Homo sapiens: one gene and its partners. The protein of the gene in region 3 purifies or fractionates together with the protein of the main gene of each other region. This does not show direct contact. Each region holds a gene or a part of one and is shown on either strand. Other genes may lie near its edges. The genes, in order: UQCC2, MAT2B, P3H1, DHRS7B, KRABD3, UQCC1 and TMTC3.

Evidence for each region.
Region 1: the proteins of P3H1 (region 3) and UQCC2 purify together in Homo sapiens (co-immunoprecipitation; 3 studies listed by BioGRID and IntAct, with this or other methods). This does not show direct contact.
Region 2: the proteins of P3H1 (region 3) and MAT2B fractionate together in Homo sapiens (co-fractionation; one large-scale study listed by BioGRID). This does not show direct contact.
Region 4: the proteins of P3H1 (region 3) and DHRS7B purify together in Homo sapiens (co-immunoprecipitation; one large-scale study listed by IntAct). This does not show direct contact.
Region 5: the proteins of P3H1 (region 3) and KRABD3 purify together in Homo sapiens (affinity purification with mass spectrometry; 2 studies listed by BioGRID and IntAct, with this or other methods). This does not show direct contact.
Region 6: the proteins of P3H1 (region 3) and UQCC1 purify together in Homo sapiens (co-immunoprecipitation; 3 studies listed by BioGRID and IntAct, with this or other methods). This does not show direct contact.
Region 7: the proteins of P3H1 (region 3) and TMTC3 purify together in Homo sapiens (co-immunoprecipitation; one large-scale study listed by IntAct). This does not show direct contact.

Annotation. Positions count from the first base shown.
Region 1 is NC_000006.12:33,696,264-33,698,982, forward strand, and holds the end of UQCC2 (ubiquinol-cytochrome c reductase complex assembly factor 2), read right to left. Parts: intron 1,972-2,719; exon of another isoform or gene 1,865-1,971; intron 1,488-1,864; coding exon 1,390-1,487; 3' UTR 501-1,389; downstream 1-500.
Region 2 is NC_000005.10:163,515,619-163,519,854, reverse strand, and holds the end of MAT2B (methionine adenosyltransferase 2 subunit beta), read right to left. Parts: intron 3,338-4,236; coding exon 3,144-3,337; intron 2,295-3,143; coding exon 2,181-2,294; intron 1,663-2,180; coding exon 1,492-1,662; 3' UTR 501-1,491; downstream 1-500.
Region 3 is NC_000001.11:42,750,029-42,753,528, forward strand, and holds part of P3H1 (prolyl 3-hydroxylase 1 isoform 1 precursor), read right to left. Parts: intron 2,637-3,500; coding exon 2,509-2,636; intron 2,342-2,508; coding exon 2,246-2,341; intron 309-2,245; coding exon 158-308; intron 1-157. UniProt on the Homo sapiens protein: Basement membrane-associated chondroitin sulfate proteoglycan (CSPG). Has prolyl 3-hydroxylase activity catalyzing the post-translational formation of 3-hydroxyproline in -Xaa-Pro-Gly- sequences in collagens, especially types IV and V.
Region 4 is NC_000017.11:21,188,942-21,191,920, reverse strand, and holds the end of DHRS7B (dehydrogenase/reductase SDR family member 7B), read right to left. Parts: intron 974-2,979; coding exon 768-973; 3' UTR 501-767; downstream 1-500.
Region 5 is NC_000007.14:149,717,951-149,721,450, reverse strand, and holds part of KRABD3 (protein KRBA1), read right to left. Parts: intron 1,983-3,500; exon of another isoform or gene 1,906-1,982; coding exon 1,779-1,905; intron 1,444-1,778; coding exon 1,324-1,443; intron 617-1,323; coding exon 461-616; intron 72-460; coding exon of another isoform or gene 69-71; coding exon 1-68.
Region 6 is NC_000020.11:35,384,474-35,387,973, forward strand, and holds part of UQCC1 (ubiquinol-cytochrome c reductase complex assembly factor 1), read right to left. Parts: intron 1-3,500. UniProt on the Homo sapiens protein: Required for the assembly of the ubiquinol-cytochrome c reductase complex (mitochondrial respiratory chain complex III or cytochrome b-c1 complex). Involved in cytochrome b translation and/or stability.
Region 7 is NC_000012.12:88,169,807-88,173,306, reverse strand, and holds part of TMTC3 (protein O-mannosyl-transferase TMTC3), read right to left. Parts: intron 711-3,500; coding exon 562-710; intron 342-561; exon of another isoform or gene 218-341; intron 1-217. UniProt on the Homo sapiens protein: Transfers mannosyl residues to the hydroxyl group of serine or threonine residues.

The DNA of each region.
Region 1 (2,719 bases), on a different chromosome or scaffold from region 3:
CAGCTCCCTCCGTGCCTCAGATCTGCTGTAGCCAGTGCAGACCTCACTGTCGTGTCCATGCCACCCCCGGCATGGCTCCAGGTGGCCTGGTGACTCCATGATGGACGATCTTGCTCCCAGGACCTGCCTCTTCCCAGGCTTCCTGGGGAAGAGTTGTACGCCCAGGCAACAAGGGCTGAGCTGCGCTTGCGTGGCTGTTTCATGACCGCTTGTTTTTCTCCTTTTGGTGTAATGTTTTACAAATCCTTTGGCCTGAGAACTAATATGTTAATTGCCTTAAATAAATTAATAGAAATCTAGTCCGTTAAAAAGGGATGTGTTTCCTGCACTCCCCCGGGGGCTGTGGGGATTAACAGGACACACTGGCAGAAGACAGGAACAAGAGCCCCTCCCTGCTGGCCTGGCCTCTCAGGCTCTCAGGAGATACGCTGAGTGACATCCTGTCTCAAGGGTCCTCCCCTGAGATTTGCCTACCCAGAACTGCATTTCGGCATAACTGGTTTCTACGGCAGTCCTGTCGATTTTATTTTATGCATTTCAGAACATCCTGAGGAGTCTAGACACAGACGAGGTTAAGAACCCACTTCCACTTTGTACCCACCAGGGCCGCTGTGGGCCCAGCCCTGTCCCTCACGGTTCCAGAGAGAAGGATGCTCAATATCAGTAAGAGCCAAGGTTCCATGGAATAATGAGGTGACCCTGTGTGTGTCCTCAGCCAGCAGGGCCTCTGACTTGTGGCCACCTACAGAACCTGCCCACAGTGCTGAAGCCAACTGCAGCTGAGGCCCCGCTTGGCCAAGGCCTGTCTATAGCTTCCCTGTCCCTTAAGCCAACTGGGCAATGTGGGTTTTTGCAAGGTCAGGGATAGAGGCCTAAGGTCCATCCTTCTCTGAGTCAGTGGGGATGAGGGCCAAGCAGGCTTTTTGCCTCTCTCGGCCTCACACCTCCCTACTGCTTTCTGTTTGCAACAGGATGCCCTTTTCAGTATTTACTGCTATTTTTGGCTTCCTCCCAGGAGCTCCTACAACAAAAGGGAGCCTGAGTATCTTGCCAGGAGACACCAGACCCGTGCCAGAGGGGCGGGGGCTCCCGTGGCAATGCAGGAAGCACCTTGTGCCGAGGCCCCATTACCCTCATCAGGCCCAGAGGGAAACCTGCATTTCCTCTCCCCAGGAGATTTCCCTACCCTGAGCAGCAGTCACAGCAGATAGCTCAATCACCATCCCTTCTCAGGCTGAAACTTTCTTTAGAGCAGCAAGGGCTTCCTTTCTGGGAAAGCTAGAGGAGATTCCCAAACCGTAAGGTCAAGGGGAAACTGGGGCAGTTTTATTGACGATGGCAATGTACAAGACTCCACACCTAGGTATGTGCACGAGGTAAGGCCTGAGCTCAGGCCTTATGATCCTCCTCAGGACCCTTGGGGGCAAACTTCTCCTGCAGTTTCTTCCACATGCCTTTATCTATTTCCTTAAGCTCTTCCAAGGTGTCTGCAAAAGGGGAAGACAAAAAGAGAGAGGGACTGAAGTCTAAAACTTGATGACATAGATTGGACCCACTGGGCTTTCCCGACACAAGCATGGCTTGCTTTTCACACAGTGTGTTCCTGAAAAAGGTGGAGACCCAGCTCCTGAAGAGCAGATCAAACAGGTAACAGAAGTGACCGCTTGCGGGGACTGAGCACTGTGTGCCAGACTCTGTGCCCAGCACGCTGTCAGTGGTCTCCTGCCCTCTCCTCACCCTCGGCATCAAAGCGGGATGTGCTGCTCGTTGCCCTGCTCCGTATGAGGGCAAAGAAATGGCCCTGCGCTGTCCGCTGTGCAACCCACAGACCCAGATGCTTCATCGCAAAATTTGGCCTGCTCCACACAGCCCTTCCTGTCCCCAGTTTTCAGGTGTGGAAACTGAGGCAGGAGGCAGTGAAGTAACTTGCTCAGGTTGCACAGCTGGGAAGTGGAGCAGGGATTTGAATCCTGGTGTGTGGACTCAGCACATGCTGTGGAGTTGAGCAGGCACTGGGAGGGGGATGGCCTTGGGCCTGAATCCGAGCCCATCATCTCCCACTCTGGGTCCCCTCAAGCAAATTACTTAACCCTCTACGCTTCGGGTTCCTCATCTGTAAAATGAAGATAAAAACACACATCTGCAGACAACTTGGGGAGAGGTGAAAAAGTAAGAAAAAAAAAACCACACGTACCTCAAAAGTTGTAAGGATTAAAGAAAAGCATGGAGGTAACTCGCTTGGCACACAGCCCGCACTCAATGAAAAGGCAGCCATCATCCACCACAATGCAGGCGGGAGGGGCTCTTGTTTAAGAACATACACGTCCCTACACCCAGGAACCAAAGCAGGGTTTCTTGGCCTTGGCACTACCAACACTTTGGGCCAGATAATTTTTCGTCGTGGGCTGGCCTGTGCATCACTGAAGGCTGTTTCAAAGCATCCTGGCCTCTACCCACTAATGCCAGTAGCACCGCTGCCCGCACCACCAGTTGTGACAACTAAAAATGTCTCCAGACATTGCCACATGTCCCCTGGGGGGCAAAACCATCCCCCCAGTACGGAACCATTTGTCTAAAGTCTCTAGGGCTAATGTTCCATGAAATCTAATTTTACGTGCATGTTAAATTTTAGATATTCTTATAATATTGTTTTGCTTTACCAGCCTAAATTTTCACGTTAACAAAACTACTGGAGAAAAAAAGAGTATCTTTTCTGACC
Region 2 (4,236 bases), on a different chromosome or scaffold from region 3:
TCCCAGCTACTCGAGTGGCTGAGGGAGGAGAATTGCTTGAACCCAGGAGGCGGAGGTTGCAGTGAGCTGAGAATGCACCACTGTACCCCAGCCTATGCGACAGAGCGAGACCTTGTCTAAAAAAAAAAAAAAAAAACTTTATGATAATCTACTTCCACTTAATGAATAGTAAATATATTTTCCCTTCCTTGAGATTTTCTTAATAATATTTTCTTTTCTCTAGGCTACTTTAAGAATACAGTATGTAATACACAGAAGATAGAAATATGTTAAATGACTATGTTTATCAGTAAGGCTTCTGGTCAACAGCAGGTTTTTACTAATTAAGTATTTGGGGAGTCCAGAGTTATAGTGGATTTTAGACTGTGCAAGGTTGATACCCCAAACCCACACCGTTCAAGGGTCAACTGTATAATGTAACAAGATTATATAGCTATTAATTTTTAGTTAAAAACAAATCCGTTCCCACAAATAGATACAGTAACTGTAACATTCTAGGATGGGGTGGTAAGTTAACATTCTGGATCAAGTGTTAATTTTATTGTGTTTTATTTCAATACATATTAAACTATATTCTTTTGTATGTATCACATGTTACATCAGAAGAATGTAATTTTTAAAAATTAAAGCAACAAAAGAACAATTAGTTTAGAAGTTTGGTCCTTACATTTAAAAAAAGAAGTAAATACAAGAAAACTAAGCATTACATGCCAGCAGTACATATTTATTATTATTCATGAATGGTGAAAAGACTTACAAGGCCCATTATTATGAGTATAACCACACATATGAAATATCACTTAGCGGCAACATGGGATGAAAAGGACAGTTATATATTTATATTAAAAAAATACACGTTTGCATTCAATGTTTGCCTAGAAAAAAAATACATGTACACACGCTCTTTCAAGTGCTCCCCATAAACTGCTATAAAAGCAGGAGGCATCAAGCTGTAGAAGTTCCAATATACATAACATGTTGAAATATCTCAAGCATAAAAACTGTACGTAACTTGCAAAAATAAAGTTCCTTTCTTCAAACATTTTGATCTGAGCTCAGGCAAAGCAAATAATGAACACCAATGATTTTTATACTATTTCACACAATTTAAAATAATCAACATGAAAAGGTCAACAGCTTCAAAAATCCTGAAAATATGGAGGTTACGAGAATGAACAATTTCATCTGAAAAGTCTACAGCAGATCTGCTTCATCCTGACTCTCAAATATTTAAGGATCATAATTTACTATACTCAAACTCCAAGTTTAGCCAGGACAAACAAAATGATAAAAAGAAAAATTACTGCAAACAGGGCATGACTGCCCTTTAGTTTCTTTAGACAATTTCACTAGTGCAAGAGCATCATTTACCTGAAAGATCCTAAGAGTCACAATTAAAGTACTCATACAAAACTATTTCCTTTGTTCTTTAAAAAGTGCCACATACTATACTTTTCATTTAAAAAAAAAAAAGAACCCAACACAAATAAACTAATGAAAGACCGTTTGTCTCCATCTCTTGTCAATGAGGAAAGGCCAAAGTGATTCTTTGATTCCAATTCGAAATGGTGTTCGTTGGCCAATGCCCAAGGTCTCCAATTTGGAGCAGTCAAGCTGAGCATTTCTCGGACGTTGTGCTCCTAGGACAGGGCTGTCAGTAATCTTTAAAGAAAGATAAACACAAAAAAATCAAAAGTAAGTGAAAGGCTATATTTTGAGGGCTTTGTTCCCCCTGACCTTTTTTTAAATATGTATATATTTTTAAACAGAGATGAGATCTCCCTCCATTGCCCAGGCTAGTCTCAAATTCCTGGGCTCAAGGGATCCTCCTGCGTCAGCCTCCCAAAGTGTTGGGATTACAGGCATGAGCCATTGTGCCTGGCCATTTTGAGGTTTTATATTTGCTACTTATTTTTGCTCTTAGTGTAAGAAATCTGATTTGATCATCCCTGGAAAAATAAACCAAATGCCTGTCATGATCAAGACAATAATACATTTTCTACAAACTTCAATACTCATGATCTTCTCTACAGATGATAATTTAGAGAAAAGTAGCACTATGAACAGCCAGCATACAAGCAAAGTTCACTTTGATTAGTACTGAGAAATGAAGTTACCCAACACAGCAATAATATATACCATAGCAATGGATCTAAAGGTTTTTACAGCCATGTACTTACAGGTCTTAAGTGACTGCTGGGGAGGTTGAAGGCATCTGCAATTGCACATGCCATTTCATACTTAGTCATCTGTTCATTGCCAGACCAGTGAAAGGTTCCCTTAATTGATGGATCCTAAGAACGATGACACAATAAATTCAATAGTTTCAACTTTTTGAGCTGAGTAGAATAGGTTTGACCAAAAAGCTTACTTAAAATAAGGTCCAGGAACTAAAAGGCAACCCTCTTTTTCTGGAAAGGTCTCCACAAGATATCTAAAATCAAATTCCTACTAATACTCTTAGCAAAACACTTAAAAGAGCAATTTCTAGAATTTAAACCTTAAGAATTTTTAAAATCAAAAAAAGGCTCCAATTTTACTTAATTAGTGGGAATATAAAAAAGCATTACAAATTTTTATGAAAACAGTACAATTTAATGAGTATTTTTAATTATCCCAAGCTACAACAAAAACTTAATAGAACCATTTTTCAAGTTGAGCTAAACTTTCTTAAATATTGTCATGTTATATATTACAAAATATAATTCTCATATATTAAAAAACTGTGGTCATCCTATTAATATTCTAAACTAAATCAGTCTCATCTTTCTTTGTATGGATATTATATTTAATACCAACTTTTTCAAATGTGCTGGGATTACAGGTGTGAGCCATCACGCCCAGCCCCCAAAGAGTATCTTCTTAAAAGACCTTAGATGATTATTTTGAAGTTTCCTAACACTTTGCAATAAAAGAAATGATGGGATCTATAGTACATAAGAAATAAATTCAAACAGAAGAGCATAATATTTTTATTCTTCATGAATACAGTGTATATGTAAACTACTTTTGTTTGGTCTCCTAGTTTTAAAAAAGCACTTTTGGCTTTCACTCAGTAACACTCCAAGTACAGCTGTGAAAGTTCAAGCATGGAAAAGACAAAGCGGACCTTCGCTAAGACAGGACTCAGGAATCCTTCTTACCAGCATTCTCTTCTCTGCTAGCTGCCGGCACACAGTGGCCACATCTTTGACATGTGTGGGGAACCTCTGCTGCCAGTGATCCATGTTTGCTGACTTGTTGCTGAACTGCACTTTATCAAACATAACAGTCACAGCACTTTCTTCGAGCTTTTCAACTTCCCCATACAGAATAGGAATCCTCAAAACAGCAGCTCCTAGAGAAGAATAAAAGCAAATAATTTAAAGCTGACTGATTCTTAAATTTTGATGTAAGATACAAGGGTGTGGATTTAAATAATATCAAAGTAGAAACCTTGCCTTTTAATTAAAATATACCAAAATGACACAGCTCACTTGTGACAACGCAATGTAAAAATATTCAAGGCCAGGCACAGTGACTCATGCCTATAATGCTAGCACTTTGGGAGGCCAAGGCAGAAGGATCACTTGAAGCCAGGAGTTCAAGATCAGCCCGGGCATCATAGCAAAACTCCGTCTCTACAAAAAATTAAAATGAAAATTAGCTGGGCATGGTGGCACATGCCTGTAGTCCCAGCTACTTGGGAGGCTGAGTAAGGCAAAAGGATCTCTTGAGCCTGAAGTTCAAGGTTGCAATGAGCTATGACTGCACCACTGTACTCCAGCCTGGGCAACAGAGTGAGACCCTGCCTCAAAAATAAAATTAAAAACAGTCAAAGGCTGAGTGCGGTGGGGCTCATGACTGTAATTCCAGCACTTGGGAGTCCAAGGCAGGAGGACTACTTGAGCCCAGGAGTTCGAGACCAGCGTGGACAACACAGTGAGACCTCGTCTCTACAAAATGTAAAAAAATTAGCCGTTCGTGGTGGGAGGATTGCTTAAGCCAAGGAGGTCAAGGCTATAGTGAGCTGTGTTCACCCTACTGCACTCCAGCCCAGGCGACTGAGACCCTGTCTCAAAAAAAAAAAAAAAAAAAAAAAAAAGAAAAAGGCAAAACCACATTTGTTAAGTATCTTCTGTCATTTGGACTAGTTTTTTTTATATATATAAATCCTACATTAATATGATCATTAAAAATAAAACTTATCATGACAACTGAATGCAATGAATAGTCTTTGACTGGATGCTAGATTAA
Region 3 (3,500 bases):
GTGGCATGCATCACACTGGGATGCCACCCATGTATTTACATTGGTTCCCCAACTGAAGAAAAGGGACCGCATCCTGTTCTCTCTGTGTCTTCAGCATCCAGCACAGAGCTGAGGTACAGCATGCGGGGGCGGGTGCTGCAGGGGTAATGAGGCCCACCTTCGATGGCAGTGCGGCACACCAGATGAGAGTAGGAAAAGTAGAGGGGCGTATCCAGGCGGAAGTAGGACTCCATGATGCGCCGCACCTTCTCCGTCACGTTGTAGTACAGGTGGGCACTCTGCAGAGGAACTTTGCCTTCTTGCCCCAGCTGCCAAGGAGACAGATGGTCAGCTGCCCTCAACGACTGATATGGTTTGGCTCTGTGTCCCTACCCAAATCTTATCTTGTAGTTCCCATAATTCCCATGTGTTGTGGAAGGGACCTGGTGGGAGATGACTGAATAATGGGGGTGGATCTTTCCCGTGCTGTTCTCATAATACTGAATAAGTCTCACGAGATCTGGTGGCTTTAAAAAAATGGGAGTTTGCGTCCGGGAGGTGAGGGGCGCCTCTGCCCGGCCGCCCCTACTGGGAAGTGAGGAGCCCCTCAGCCCGGCCAGCCACCCCGTCCGGGAGGGAGGCCGGGGGGGGTGGTCGGCCAGCCGCCCCGTCCGGGAGGGAGGTGGGGGGGTCAGCCCCCCGCCCGGCCGGCCGCCCTGTCCGGGAGGTGAGGGGCGCCTCTGCCCGGCCGCCCCTACTGGGAAGTGAGGACCCCTCTGCCCGGCCAGCCGCCCCGTCCGGGAGGGAGGTGGGGGGGTCAGCCCCCTGCCCGGCCAGCCGCCCTATCCAGGAGGTGAGGGGCGCCTCTGCCCGGCTGCCCCTACTGGGAAGTGAGGAGCCCCTCTGCCTGGCCAGCCGCCCCGTCCGGGAGGGTGGTGGGGGGGTCAGCCCCCCGCCCGGCCAGCCGCCCCATCCGGGAGGTGAGGGGCGCTTCTGCCCGGCCGCCCCTACTGGGAAGTGAGGAGCCCCTCTGCCCAGCCACGACCCCGTCTGGGAGGTGTGCCCAGCGGCTCATTGGGGATGGGCCATGATGACGATGGCGGTTTTGTGGAATAGAAAGGCGGGAAGGGTGGGGAAAAAATTGAGAAATCGGATGGTTGCGGGGTCTGTGTGGATAGAAGTAGACATGGGAGACTTTTCATTTTGTTCTGTACTAAGAAAAATTCTTCTGCCTTGGGATCCTGTTGATCTGTGACCTTATCCCCAACCCTGTGCTCTCTGAAACATGTGCTGTGTCCACTCAGGGTTAAATGGATTAAGGGCGGTGCAAGATGTGCTTTGTTAAACAGATGCTTGAAGGCAGCATGCTCGTTAAGAGTCATCACCACTCCCTAATCTTAAGTACCCAGGGACACAAACACTGCGGAAGGCCGCAGGGTCCTCTGCCTAGGAAAACCAGAGACCTTTGTTCACTTGTTTATCTGCTGACCTTCCCTCCACTATTGTCCTGTGACCCTGCCAAATCCCCCTCTGCGAGAAACACCCAAGAATGATCAATAAAAAAAAAATAAATAAATAAATAAATAAATAAATAAAATAATAAAAAATAAAAAATAAAAAAATGGGAGTTTGCCTGCAGAAGTTCTCTCTTTGCCTGCTGCCATCCATGTAAGATGTGACTTGCTCCTCTTTGCCTTCCACCATGATTGTGAGGCTTCCCCAGCCACATGGAACTGTAAGTCCAAGTAAACCTCTTTCTTTTGTAAATTGCCCAGTCTCGGGTACGTCTTTATCAGCAGTGTGAAAACGGACTAACACAACGCCCCTCTTTAGGGGCCAGAGACAATGAGTACCAGGCCCATCCCACGTCCCCACACCCCCACTGAAGCTGCAGCCTCTGCTGCCCACGCCCAATACCCCTACTATATTCCTCTTCCTCCTGTCCTTCTTATCTCTCTTTATGAGCACACTGTGCATCCTGCACAGAAGCACAGCCCTCTAGAATCAGCCTTTCTAAAGAAAGCATTCTCATAGCTTTGGCGAACAGTCTTATCCTGCTCACTTTGTTTTGATTACACTCGGTCTAACAGGATTCAAAAGTGAACCTCACGCAACATAACTCATCCTCGCTTCCTGGCAACAAGAATGTTGGCAGGTGGACCCTCTTCACCTTTCCTGCCACCAGCCCCAACTCTTCCTCAAAGCCTGAGCTTCCCCCTTCCCCACCCCTTTCTCCACACTCTAGAATGCCCAGTGTTGATCTTACCTTGAGGGCTTTGAAGACAGTGACACCATAGAACTTTTCATTGGGAGTATGTGGGGAGGTCTGACCCCGGTAGCCATCTCCTGAGGTTGCTGCCACCTACAAGGCCCAAAACACAAGGTGATGTTAGCCAGGGCAGCTGAGGGCTTGAGAAGAGGTGGTCAACTGTGGCCAGGAAGAGGAAGGCGAAGGCTACCACCCAAGGGGCACTTGGTGGGGGGATGCTGGACCCTTGGGGGAAGGTGCAGTCACTGGGCTTCCCTTACATTGGTCAGTCTCTGCAGCTCCTGACACTCGTGGTCAGAGATTACGCCGTCCATCACCACCCGCTGGGAACCATTCAGGAGTTTGGAGTTCATGGTGAGACTGATGCCTTCATACAGCAGGGGGCCACCTGCAAAGCAATGACAAAACTCTAGCTAAATCTAGCAGCAGCTAGACCAAAGACTCTCCATTGGATATTGCCTCCTCGTCACAAATAGAAATTCCAGCTGTTTCCTTTTCACCAGCAAAATCTCCCGCTAGGTCATTTTCAAAGGTAGAATAGTCCAGAGGACAGAACATAGAGCTGAAAGATGAGATTCCCAGTCCCAGCTCCATGACCAAATAGCTGCTGGCTTTTGGGCCATGACACACTCTTGAGGAAACATCAGAAACACAATCCTAAAACATGAGCTCGGGAACGAGGAAGAACTGACTTTGACTCCTAGATCCTCCATTGATTAGCTGTGTGACCTTGGCAAGTTACTTAACCTCCCTGAGGTTAATTTTAATTAATTAAAATGTTCTCATCTGTCAAACAGCATCTACCTTATATGTTTGATGCCAGTATAATGTTAAGAACAAGGAAGGCAAGTTAAAAGCTTAGTACAATATTTGGCATATGGTAAGTCCTCAAAAGTTTGGCTACCATGGTATCATCATCATTATTCATTTAAAATAAGGATCTTGCAATCTGCATGACTCACCTCTCAGTTATAAGAATCAAGAGAAATAACAAAGTGAAAGTGGTCTGAAAACAAAGGAATGCTGGACAAATTCTTTTCATACGCTAATCTTGTTTAATTAACCACTGTTAATTTAAGCAACTATAGGGCAAAGGTCAACATTTCTCTCTTACAGTTCTCATGGTGTTTCTCTGTGCTAGGGACATACTAATACTAGAGACTCAGTTCAACTCCACTTGATAACTGAGGCCTCAGTGTGTACCAGGAACTGTGCCAGATAGGGTGAGAGATGAATCCTAGAAGACAGTACC
Region 4 (2,979 bases), on a different chromosome or scaffold from region 3:
ACCAGGGGCTGCTGTAGAGTCTGCCCAGCTGGCCAATTTAATGGTTTCACTTCTAGAGGATGCACGGGGCCACGCAGGGTCCTCCTCTCCCTTTTGGCTGCTCTCTCTTTAGTAAGTTCACCTTCTGCTTGGAGTGGTGCCTGGCATCCTACAGGGATGTGGTGAGAGTTAAGAGAGAAACAGGAATTCCTATGAGGTGCTAAAGCAGGCATCCCTTGGGATACACCAAATAAGCCATTACATACTGGCCCACGTTTTAAGTTGGATGAGATATCATAGGGACCTGGAAATGGGCGTGACTGCTGACTTCTTGAAACTACAACTTTCTCCCCTCAGTACTGGAGGTGGTCTTTCTGCCACAACAATGAGGTTTAAGTCAAATACAGAAACAACTGGGTCAGGTGACATAACATCTGATTCCAAGATTGAAACTATTTCTAGGAGCTGGCAGGGCGAGAATTCAAAGGACACAAGGTTCTAGTCCTGGAAGACTACAACTCTTACTGTTTGAGATGTTTATTTCTAGTTTTTAGTGTTAAACCCCAGCTCCATATTTATTCCTTAAGTGTTTCCCCTCACCCTGGGAAGAAGCTTGTTGTCGTTTTTGATTGTCCTCTGCCAGCAGATCTGCACGAGATGTGTTTCTTCAGTCTTTCCCACTTGTGAGACAAATCTCCATTAAAGTCTCAACAAATGCAACTGTCCCTTGTAGAGTAAGCAAGCCTAAGAGTGCTGCTTCTCTGCCCTGGCCCTGGCTGGTCAGAGTACTAGGAGTTCTTGGATTTCCGCTCTTTTCTGGCCCTGGAGGCCATGAGGCTGAAGAAGAGCCCAGGAGCCAGAGTTCGAAGATAAACAGCCAAGGAAGGCAGTAAGTCAGCCAGGATCACATCTTTCTTCTTCTTCCCCACAGCAGCAAGAACATCCTGGGCCACCTCCACAGGGCTTCGGCCCTGGGCTGTGGTGGTGTCCATAACTAAAATAAATAAAACAAAAGAAACACATGAACTTGGAAGCAGAGGTCCCTCTTGAGGAGTGGAGCTGATGTGAGTCGTCAGGTCAGCCTGCTGCCTTTCCCACCATGAAGCTCTTCCCAGGGCCAGGAAGCCAGTGGTGTGCCACCATCCCTGATGATTCCATGCTCCAAGGAAAGAGGGAACCATTTTGCAGCTGGATGTGGGTCAGTGGGGGAAGCGAGAGGTGGGTGGGATGTGGAAACAAGGTAGACTGAGGATCCCAGTTAGGGCTTGGAACCAAAGTGAGTCTGTCTGCCTGGTGCTCCACAGCAAAGGCACAGGGCCAGCCCGGGGTGGGGGCTTCAGAGTGACCCCCTCACACCGCACCTGAAAAGCAGCTTCCTGACCTGGGAAACGTGTGCCTATTAGAACAACCAAAGACTAAGGGATGTTGTGCCACCTCATTTATCTTGGGTAGCTTGGCTTCAGGATGGCCAGACAGAGGTGGGTGGGGACTATTGACCCCCATATGCACAAGCTCACTGAGTCAGGAGCAGACAGATGTCCCTGTTCTCGATGTCAAGTATTAATTGGATGAGAAACAGGAAGAAGTCCTTAGTTTGTTTTAGGTGTTAGAAGGAACAGCTGGGAGAGATTAGGAGGCAGTGTTAGATTAACGGCAACTGATGTTCCTTCTACCCTAGTAATTTGACAATTTTGCCCGCAAAGTAGGACCAGCTGGCAGGCACACAGGAGCGGCCACTAGCACAGACCATGTGAAACCACTTTTTTTTTTTTTTTAAAGACAGGGTTTCGCTCTGTTGCCCAGGCTGGAGTGCAGTGGCACAATCATGGCTTACTGCAGCCTCGACCTCCTGGGCTCAAGCAATCCTCCTGCCTCAGCCTCCTGAGTAGCTAGACTACAGGTGGTGCCACCATGGTTGGCTAATTTTCGTATTTTTTGTGGAGGTTAGGTCTTGCACTATTGCCCAAACTGGTCTCAAACTCCTAGGCTGAAGTGATCCTCCTGACTTGACCTCCCAAAGTGCTGAGATTTCAGGTGTTGACCACAGTGCCTAGCCATATGAAACCACTCTTAAGTTGTCCAGATTGCCTGAGCTCCCTCACCAATGTCTGTTCTGTGTTTTTGTTAATGCAGAAAAGTAGGAAGTTTTGGATTACAGCTTATTTTTAAATGCCGCAGAGATAATTTTTTAAGTGGTATCTTCTAGGTATAAACAGGTGTAAAGCTGTATGAAGCCCCATGCCTCTGTATAGAGTCTACTGTGGGGAAAACAAGACTTGCTGTGTGAGAGAGCAGCTGCTGCCAGGACATGGGCAGTCTTGGTTCAGGCCTGGCTGGGCCGGGCGCAGGACCATGAGGCCCCTGGCAGACATCACAGCACAAACCCCAAGAGCTCACTTCAGGGAGGAGGACATGGCAGGACAGCACTGGAGGGGTGAGCAGGCCCTGTTCCAAGCATGGGGAGGCAGCACCAGCTCCAAGGGCTCCAGTGATCATGGGCACACTGGTCTCTGCTTGGCCTGAGCCTGCATGCTGGGGCCAGCTGCTCTGCCCGCGAGTGGTGACTGCAGGTCAGCTCTGCACTGTCTCCAAATGAGACAAGATGAAGGTGCTGAGACTGCTGCACTCGGCCTCATCCTGAAGACTGGCCCTGAATCAGTCATTTCTCAAGCCTATGGGACAGAGACAGACCATCAAACACCCTACACTTGCCATGAGGTCAATTCACTCAATCCCGATGCCGATAATACTCCTTGGACTCGGGATCTGCGAATGGGTTAGTTGGAAGTCTGTTGGCATTTCAGCTTGGCAACTTCCTTTTAGCCCTTGAGTCCTGCCCACAGAGGTCCTGTTCTGAATGCTGCAATGGTGACGTTCACACTAAGGGTAGGCCATGGTGGGGTAAAAGAAGATTATTCAATAGTCCATATCTAGAACCAACACCTCTGTCAAGTTTTTTTCACTTTAAAAGTTCTCTTCCAAATGAAAATGACCAAAGAA
Region 5 (3,500 bases), on a different chromosome or scaffold from region 3:
CTGGCTGGTAGGGCCGTCTGGAAGGCAGCTGAGCAGGCCTCGGAGAGGGCAGGGCTCTCTTGCCGCAGCTGCTGTCGGGAAAGAGGGAGAATCAACAACTGGTAAGATGCCCCTAACATTGTCACACTGTCACATTCTGGGTCCTTTCCTTGCCATGTACTAACAATGACCAGGATGTCAGCCACCTATGTGTTGTCATCACTGGGCTCTGAATGGGGCCATGGTGGGTGGAGGGTGACAAAGCCACACAGAAACCACCATGCGAAAGTCAGAGCTGCCCTCTCGCCAGCTATGGGCATGTGCTCAGAGGGCGGCACACGGCCTAGCCACGAGGAACAGCAGGTGACTCTGCCTCCCGGCCTGTGCCTGCAAGCCCACATGCAGTGCAGTGCCGTGGACTTGTGCTTCATCATGCGGAGTGCAGAGGAGGCTGCGTGCACTGCCCCACTGTCTGACTTACCCTCGGGGCTCGCTCTCTCTCCATCCAGGCTGGCTCCCCGGCTCTCGCTCTCGGGGCTGTCCATAGCGCCCTTGACTTCTCCAAACAAGAACTCTGGGATCTCCTTCACCAGCTGCACCAGGGCTGTGAGGTGCAGGCTGTGCCGGGGCTGTCCCCCTGCAGAGAGGCCACAGTGACCCCCCCGCACCCCTGCGGCTGCTCAGCACTCACACCTACGTGCGTGTTTTCACACCCAGCATCTCACGTAATCCTCCCAGCCACATGAGGAGCAGCCAGAGGAGACACCATGTCCCATGAGATATAGAGGACCTGGGCTCAGGCCAGGCGCTCTGGCCAAGGGACAGCCAGGGCATGGGGGCGGGGCCTGGGTAACAGGGCTCCTCTGTTCTACGTTACTCATTAATCTCCATGCCTCCCAGGGGAATGCCCAGGCGGGCTGCCGCTACACTTCTTCCACCATCTGGGCCCTCTGCCTTTCCTGGCACCCCCTAAATGCCTGGCCTTGCCCAGTCTGGGCCGGTGGAGCACATCCACCATCTGAGGTCTTGGGATGTAAGCCTCGTGGCAGGACTTTTGGGAGCTGGAGCAGGTTCTGCAGGGGTGGCTGTGATAAGGCTTCAGGGTGGTGGTGGGTGGGGGGCCTGAGGCAGGAGGTACTCTCCAGGGTGACCCCAGGCTTTCTCTGAGTGCTTCTCTGCATAACAGGCTTCCAGCCCAGAGGGATGAGGGGTGAAAGCTTGGGAGGTTGCAGTAGGGGAGGCAGGGAGGTGAGAGGCTGGACTGAGTAGGCTGAGGTCACGCATTGCCTGGGGCTGAGGACCGATGAGTGGGAGGAGACACCCAAAGTCTGACAGATAACTTACCCTGGGGATCTCCACAACCAGCAGGCTCCTGCCCCTCATCAGCGTGGCTCCCTCCCCCAACAGCTCTTCCAGGCTCTGAGGGTGACAGGAAAGCAGAGAGGGGGAGCAGCTCAGCTGTCCCTGGGAAAGAAGAGGGAACTGTGGCCCTGGGAATGGAGTGGTCTCCGCTTCGCACACAGTTGCATAGCAGCCCAGGCCCCTGCAGGTCTGTGCACATTCATGTGACCACTTAAACTCAAAGAACCGCAGAGTGGTCGGAACCTCAGAGGCCGCCGCATACCCCCACCGAATTGTACCTAGAACCCGGTCCCGGGACATAGAATAGCAGCAGCGTGAACGATCCCCGTGTTCATTTCTCAGGTGGAAAGACTAAGGCTGCCGGGTCCAGGGACTCCGGCCTCCCTTCCACCGCCCACCAGGCTCCTGCCACACGTGCTGCTCCCTCCCGTCCTTACCCACAGAGACCAGCGTCTCGTAGTTCTCCCGCATCACGTCTCGGTAGAACTCCCTCTGCCCCTCCTCCAGGAGCCGCCACTCCTCCTCCGAGAACCGCACGGCCAAGTCCTTGAAGGTGATGGACACCTGCAGGCACAGTCTCCGGGGGGGTTGGTTGTTCCATCCCAGAGGGGACAGCCTAGCTGTCCCTGCACTTGGTAACCCCACCTAGGCCTCCAGGCGCACACTCCAGGATAATAGCCAGGGTCTGACATGCAGGAATCCCCTCAAGAGACAGTGCTGGGGGTGAGCTGTGTCTCTGCAGAGACACGCTGAAGTCCTAACCCTCACGCCTGTAAGTAGGACCTTATTTAGAAACAGAGTCCCTGCAGATGGAATTACTTAAGATGAGGTCATACTCCTAAGTAGGGGGGACCCTTAGTCCAGTATGACTCATTCCTTATCAGAAGAGACACAGAGACAGACACAAAAGAAGAAAGCTGTGTGAAGACAGGCAGAGACTACAGTCATGCAGCCACAAGCCAAGGAATGCCCAGGGCCACCAGAAGCCACAAGAGGCAAGAAGGATCCTGGCCCAGAGCCTTCAGAGGGAGTGTGGCCTGCCCACACTGTGACGTAGGGCTTCGGGTCTGCAGGGCTGTGAGAGAAGACATTCTTGCTGTCCACCTAGTTTGTGTGCTGGGTTTAGAGAAGTGCTCAGAAGAAACCTGGGGTTGCCCTTGGAAGCTTTGGGTCACCAGGCTCCTTTACACCCTGTACTCCTATCTCCTATTCTCTGTACTCATCTCCTCCTACCCTGTGGCTTTTTAAAATAACACGAGCATTTTTGTCTATGTTTCTTTACAAAATAATCCTTCGGCTGGGTGTGGTGGCTCACGCCTGTAATCCCAGCACTTCGGGGGGCCAAGGCAGACAGATCACCTGAGATCAGGAGTTCGAGACCAGGCTGGCCAATATGGTGAAACCTTGTCTCTACTAAAAATGCAAAAATTAGGTGTGGTGGTGGGCGCCTGTAATCTCAGCTACTCAGGAGGCTGAGGCAGGAGAATTGCTTGACCTCGGAAGGCAGAGGTTGCAGTGAGCCGAGATCACGCCATTGCACTCCAGTCTGGGCAATATGGCGAGACTCCATCTCAAAAAAAAAAAAAAAAAAAAAAAGTCCTTCAGTGGACTTTAAAGTGGCCATCAGACACTAGAAAATGACCAGCATCAATAGGCTTGAATTTAAAATTATGGCAAAAATTAACTGTGCAAATTAAGCAAACAGAAGGTAAATTATGGGAAGGGTCCTTCCTGTTGAGAAATGAATGTTAAACTGTTTATTTGTGAGAACAAATTATTAAAGAAAATGAACACGCCCCTAATAAAGCAAAGACAATTCACCGCTTGTTTCATCTGCTCAGGGCAGTTATTTTAATTAATTAATTAAAAAAGACAGGACCTTACTATGTTGCCCAGGCCAGTCTTGAACTCCTGGGCTCAAGTGGTTCTCCCACATTGGTCTCCCAAAGTGCTAGGATTACAGGCGTGAGCCCCTGCACCCACCCAAGTCAGTGATTCTAAAAACTGTCCCAGGCTGGGTGTGATGGTTCACGCCTGTAATCCCAGCACTTTGGGAGGCCCAGGTGGGTGGATCACCTGAGGTCAGGAGTTCAAGACCAGCCTGGCCAACATGGTGAAACCCCATCTCTAATAAAATACAAAAATTAGCCAGGCATGGT
Region 6 (3,500 bases), on a different chromosome or scaffold from region 3:
CTACAAATTTTTTTTTAATTGGCTGGGTGTGGTGGTGCATGCCTATAGTCTTAAGCTGCTTGGGAGGCTGAGGTGGGAGGATCACTTGAGCCCAGAAGATCGAGGCTGCAGGGAGCTATCATCACACCACTGCACTTCAACCTGGGCGACTCAGCAAGAGCAAGACCCTGTCTGTAAAAAAAAAAAAAAAGAGAGAGAGAGAGTGAATTCAAAGGCCAGGTGGCGTGGCTCACACCTGTAATCCCAGCACTTTGGGAGGCCGAGGTGGATGGATCACTTGAGGTCAGGAGTTTGAGAGCCTGGCCAATATGGTGAAACCCCATCTCTACTAAAAATACAAAAAATTAGCCAGGTGTGGTGGCACATGCCTGTAATCCCAGTTACTCAGGAGGCTGAGGCAGGAGAATAGCTTGAACTGAGGAGGCAAAGGTTGCAGTGAACCAATATCATGCCACTGCACTCCAGCCTGGGCAACACAGCAAGAATCGGTCTCAAAAAAAAAAAAAAAAAAAAAAAAAAAGAATTCAGCCCTGGAAACCTGGAACTACATCTAAGTCAATTCTAGGAAACAGAACTGTAGTATCTATCTATTTAAATATGGGCAGCAGTGCCGTATATGGGGAAAAAAATAAAGACACCAGCCACTTTTAGGTTTAAAACCTGCTTCTGTCGCCTACGACAAGCTCAGTGGCCATGGAAAACTTACTGAACCTCAGTTGCAGTAAGGATGAAAGAAGGTAAGATATATAAAGTGCCTTTCACAAAATAGGCACTCAATAAATAGCAGAAGTTTCCATCATCACTATCATCACCAGCATTATTGTTTGGATCACAATCGCCACCTTTTTCATGTTCACATTGCATTTAAAAACAATTTGGCAATAAAATAGCCGTTATTATGTGCCAGATACTATACAGAATGAAAACTGGGAGGAAAGTCCATTAAGGAGATGGTTAATGAAAGTTCAGTCACTCAGTGGAAAATCAGGTATCCATTGAGGGTTTTTTGTTTTGTTTTTGTTGTTGTTGTTTTGTTTTTGTTTTTTGAGACAAGGTCTGGCTCTATGGCCCAGGCTGGAGTGCAGTGGTGCAATCTCAGCTGACTGCAACCTCCACCTCCCCGGCTCAAGCAATTCTCCTGCCTCAGCCTCCTGAGTTGCTGGGACTACAGGCATCTGTCATCACACCCTGCTGATTTTTGTATTTTTGTAGAGACAGTGTCTCCATATGTTGCCCAGGCTGGCCTCAAACTCCTGGGCTCAAGTGAGTGATCTTCCTGCCTTGAACTCCCAAAATGCCTTGAACTCCCAAAATGGGACTACAGGCATGAGCCTGGGTGCCTGGCTGGGATTTTTTTTTTTTTAAATAGACTTTTTTTTTTTTTTTTAACAGCAGTTTTAGGCTCATAGCAAAACTTCCTGGAAAGGGCAGAGTTCCCACATACCCCTTCCCCCACATGCACAGCCTCCCCCGCCATCAACATCCCATACCAGAGTGGTGCATTTGATACAAAGAACAAACCTACACTGACACATCATCATCACTCAGACTGCACGGTTTACTCAGAGATTATTATTATTGTTAACAACATGAAAAATGTTAAATGCTTATAATATGTATAAAATTATAGGTAAAACATGACTGCGTAGACTGCATATGGGCAAGTTTAGAAAGAACACACAAGAAACCAAAGAGTTATTTTGTTAAGTTAGAATTATGGATAAATTTAAGAATCTATAGCCAAAATAATTCTGGCAAAAAAAAAAAAATCTAGTTTCCAAACTCTCACTAATGCTATATTACCTTTACAATAAAAAAGGGTGAGAGGGAGCAGGAAGAGGGCTGACTCTTCAATTCTGGTTTATTCCAAGAAGAAATGGAACACATGGAATGAAAATGATTTTTTTTCTTTAACCCTAACGAAGAAAAAATAGAATTTCTAATTGTGGAATGTTACTATTTACTTTTCTTTCCAAACGAGGATATTAAAAAATTAGTCAGGATTCTTCTGGTCAGTCCCAAGGACACTTAGGCTTTAATTCATAAGTATCAAGCAGGCTTTGTAAAACACAGACTAAACACAGAACACCTCCCCATTACATCACATACATCAATGCAATGGTCCACCTAAAACACAAAGCACTTAAACTGGTTCAAAGAACACAGCCAACAGCAGTTTCCACAAGCTGTGCTTTGGGCTGGGTCCTCTTCTATTAGGTTCTATTAGATCCTTCTTTTTCCTCACAGCTCTAGGAGTAACCAGTAGATTCCTTCTGTGGCTGTCCTACCATCTACTGTATTTCTATCCTACCATTAGCTAACATTTCACACTATATTGAACTACTAAAGTACCTATGTATCTAGTATCAAGGACATCTAGTTTCTCCACACCTACACACTTATAAACACACACATTTACTTTTTTGTACTACCCACTCTTGTCCTTGCACTTCCCGCAAAAAATTCACTCGACCCTTAAAGACCTCAATTTTTCCTTTGCTTAGATTAGAAAATATCAATAGGCTGGGCGTGGTGGCTGACGCCTGTAATCCCAACACTTTGGGAGGCCGAGGCGGGAGGGTTGCCTGAGTCCAGGAGTTAGAGACCAGCCTGGGCAACATGGCAAACCACCATCTCTACCCCCCTCCAAAAAAAAACAAAAATTAGCCAGGCATGGTGGTGTGTGCCTGTAATCCCAGCTACTCAGGAGGCTGAGGCAGGAGAATCGTTTGAACCCAGAAGGCGGAGGTTACAGTGAGCCAAGATCATGCCACTGCACTCCAGCCTGGGTGACAGAGCAAGGCTCTGTCTCAAAAAATAAAAATAAAAAATAAAAAAACAAGAATGACAGAGGCAGAGAAGTAGAAAGGGGGTGCTGGGACAAACTCAAGCGATTCTTGAATACCATGGGCGTGTGTGTCTGCTCCTTTTAGCAACTATAAGCTCCAGGGCACAGCCCATCTTATATGTCTGTCATTTTCTGTCCCAATACTCAACACCATTCTGGGCATGAAGTCATTACTCAATAAAAACTAGGTGGATTTTTTTTTTTTTTCAAAGAGGACAACTTTGGAGAACGTCCAAAAAAAGAACCACAGGAATGATCAAAGGGATGAATAAAAGGTCCTAGTGGAAAGGTCAAAAGGAATTTAGGCTGTTTAGCTTGGAGAAAAGGCAACTGAAGAACTAAAGAGTAACTCAGAATAACAACACTTGAGCTGGAAGAAATCTCAGAGATATTCTGGTCCAACCTTTTCACTTCACAGATGAGGAAACTAAGACAAAGGGAGAGGTTGCAATTTGGTAAAGGTAATTTTAGGACAACTTTTTTTTTTTTTTTTAAGTTTCATTTCATACAGTGAGGAGAAAACTTTCCCAAGCAACAGGAACATAAATAGCAACAAAAATAGCAATTGCAACTTACTGAAGATCTCCTGTATGTCTAGTACCTACCTACATGCTTGGTGTTTTACTTATGTTATCTCACAACAATCTTATAA
Region 7 (3,500 bases), on a different chromosome or scaffold from region 3:
ATTTGATAATTTTAGTGCCACAGCATAAGTATACAATGAGATAATACCTATAACAATTATAGTTCCTAAGCATATATACAGTGTGACTATGCTGTTCCTTAACTGTTAGTTTGAGGCAACTAGGATACAAAGATTATAATGAAGATAGTGATGATAGCAAGAAATTACAGATTGCTTACTATATGCATTTTATATATATTAACTCAATATGACTCACTTAAGTAGGATGACTATTATCTTAGTTCACTGAATATGGAAGTGGCAATGGTCATTTGAGACTTTATTCTCAGTAACATCCTTGTTTTCATTTGGATCTGACTCAAAGTTTGTTCTGTCTCAGGCTGTAAAATCAAATTACATAAATATAGGGAAGAACACAGAATAAGTAGGTGCCATGGAGCTTTCCTAACTTGACTTACAAGACAAATGAGGAGACTATGGAGATGAAAAACCAAAAGATACAAAAGCATGACTTAGAAAACTGAACTAAATATTTAAATTTTAAAATGTGTCACACTTAATTCCATAGTAAGCATTACATGAACTGACATTTAAATTCACCTTTTTGTTGATATTTTCTGCCATCCATGGGCTACCAAAATACAGAACCCCATGCTGGGAACATATAATACTCGCTCGGCAACAACAAATCCAACTGGAAAAAAAAGGTTCGATGCAGGAATAAATGGTAATGCCATTAAACAAAGCGCCTACAAAAAAAAAAAGAAGATTTAATAATTTATAATAAATTTAAAATAATTTATAATAAATTAAGAAATATATGGGCATCTGATACTTGAATCCAAATATTTTATCATTTAACCTGGATAGTGTACTGCTAAACTATTTTTAATAATACTGTGAAGAATATTAATTTAAACATAAAGAAGGCAACTTAGACATTAACAAACATCAGGATGTACGTAAGCAAGGTGAAATGGAAATCTTGAATTCTAAAAGTTAAAATTAGAGGATATCTATGAACTTTGAAAACAAGATTTCTAGGTGTGTTTGGGAGTGATTACTCCTTGAAATTAAAATCTAAACCATTACAGCATTTTAAATTTGAGAAGCATAATTAGCTATATCTCACTGGTTTTCTGTAAAGAATATGCTTGCATAGTAAAATATAAAAACTTTAATAAATGTAAATATTCACATCTTTAAGCAAAAATTAAACAATAAAGGTTCATCCAGTTAAATAGTGGAAGTACTTTTTGAAATTCTATCTAAAATAACACACTCAAACAATCATAAGAAAACAACCCAATTTAAAAAATGGGCAAAGTAGCTAAATAGATATTCCTCAGAAGACAACATGCCAATGGCCATCAAGTATATAAATGTTCAACATCACTATCATTAAGGAAGTGAAAATTAAAACCACAATGAGATGTCATCGCACACCTGTAAGAATGGCTATTATCAAAAAGTCAAAAGATAACAAATGTTGGCAAGAACGTAAAGGAAACACTTGCACACTGTTGGTGGGATGTAAATTAGCATTGCCATTAAGCAAACAGTAGGAAGGCTTCTCAAAAAATTAAAAATAGAACTACCATGTGACCCAGCATCCTCACTACTGGGTATAGATCCAAAGGAAATGAAGTCAGTATGTTGAAGAGAGATCTGACCTCCCCTGTTCATTGCAGCATTATTCAATTTACAATAGCCAAGATATGGGAACAACCTAAGTATCCATCAACAGATTACTGGATGAAAAAAATGTGGTACATATACACTTTAGAATACTATTTAGCCTTAAAACAGAAGGAAATCCTGTCATTTCTGACATGGATAAACCCGGAGGACACCATGTTAAGAGAAATAAGCCAGCCACAGAAAGACAAACAACGCATGATCTCACTTGTATGTAGAATTTGTAAAAGTTGAACTCACAGAAGTACAGTACATGGTGGTCACCAGGGTTGGAGGGAGAAGGTTGGGGAGAGGTTGGTCAAAAGGCATAAAACTTCAGTTAGGAGGAATACAAATTAAATAAATAAAAATTTTACACATCTAACTTATGTGCGTGTGGTAAAAATAAGATGATAATGAAATATGCTAATAGGTTTTTCAACAAAACAAAACCACAAATGCTGATTAAAAAAAAGCTAAACATGTCAGTTTTTACAACTTTACTACTTTAAGAAACCACATGATATTGGAAACTGAGGGAATGAAATCAGGTGTCGTTCAGACAAGATAGCAGACTACTGTACCTTAGCATTACTTCACATAACATCCTGAAAGGTTAAATGTATTTAACTAGAAGCTTAGTGTATGCATAAAAATAAAACTGCCCCCCTTTAAATCAACAGTCTTTCATTCTACAAGAATTTCTAAAATTATTAATATAACACTGAACATTGAAATGAAACATCATAAAAATGTTTAGATTTCTTACCATTTTGAAAATGGGATGACATGTGGTTTCCACATTATACACCCATAAAAAACTAGCACATAAATAGCTTGTGAAGGAAATAAGTTTGGTCGTTATTAGGAAATCTGTTTCTATGGACATCTGCTTCCATATTTTGTTACCCCGATTTGTTTTACAGTACTTAATTGAATAAACAAGTTAAACCTTTAGCTTCACAAGTTTGAGACTCTTCTAATGGGCTAAGGTGAAAGAATGTCCTTTTTTTCTATTTGACTTAATTTGTGAAATATAGAGGTGTATACATTGAAAAGAATACTCTCCACAAATGTTCACACATTAATGATTTGTAATAAGGCAACACTGAATCTGAGGAAAATCACTACCATCAAACTGGTCACCATCATACCAATTTATAGGTCTGACACTTCAGTTTTTTTAAATCAAAAAGGTAAGAATAACTAAGAGTGCATAGAATTCACTTTCCATTTCCCAGAGATGCTTGACAAAAATAATCAGCAAAAAATGTGAAACAGATAAAGAAAAGTTCCTGAATATGTATGTAGTTCATTGAAAAAAAAATTATACCTATTAATTCATGGCCGCCCCAAGGCAATTTCACTTGAGGGAATTAAGTGTTAAATTCACTCAAAAGTGTATTGTAGACTGATGCATAAACTATACAAAACAAAAAAAATCTCTCAGGAAAAATCTATAGGTTCTGGGATAAGAAATGTCTCTAATGATTAACTTATTCACAGGTCCTAATATGCTCTCTAATAATGTATGCCAACCTAGTTAACTATCACTCTCTTGTAATTTCCTTCTTCCAGTAGCATAAACTGTCCTTAAATGTTAGGATATTAGTAGAAAGAGCAAAGAGTTCGAGACAAATCTGCTTTACTTCTCATTTCCTACATACGGCAAACCACTCAGTCACCTCCAGAGTCTTTCTTTCTTTTTTTCTTCTTCCTTTTTTTTTTTTTCTGACAGGGTCTTGTCTGTCATCCAGGATAGAGTATAGTGGCATGATCATAGTCTACTGCATTCTTGAACTCTTGGGCTCAAGCAATCCTCCTGCCTCAGCCTCCCAAACACCTAGGACTACAGGTATGCA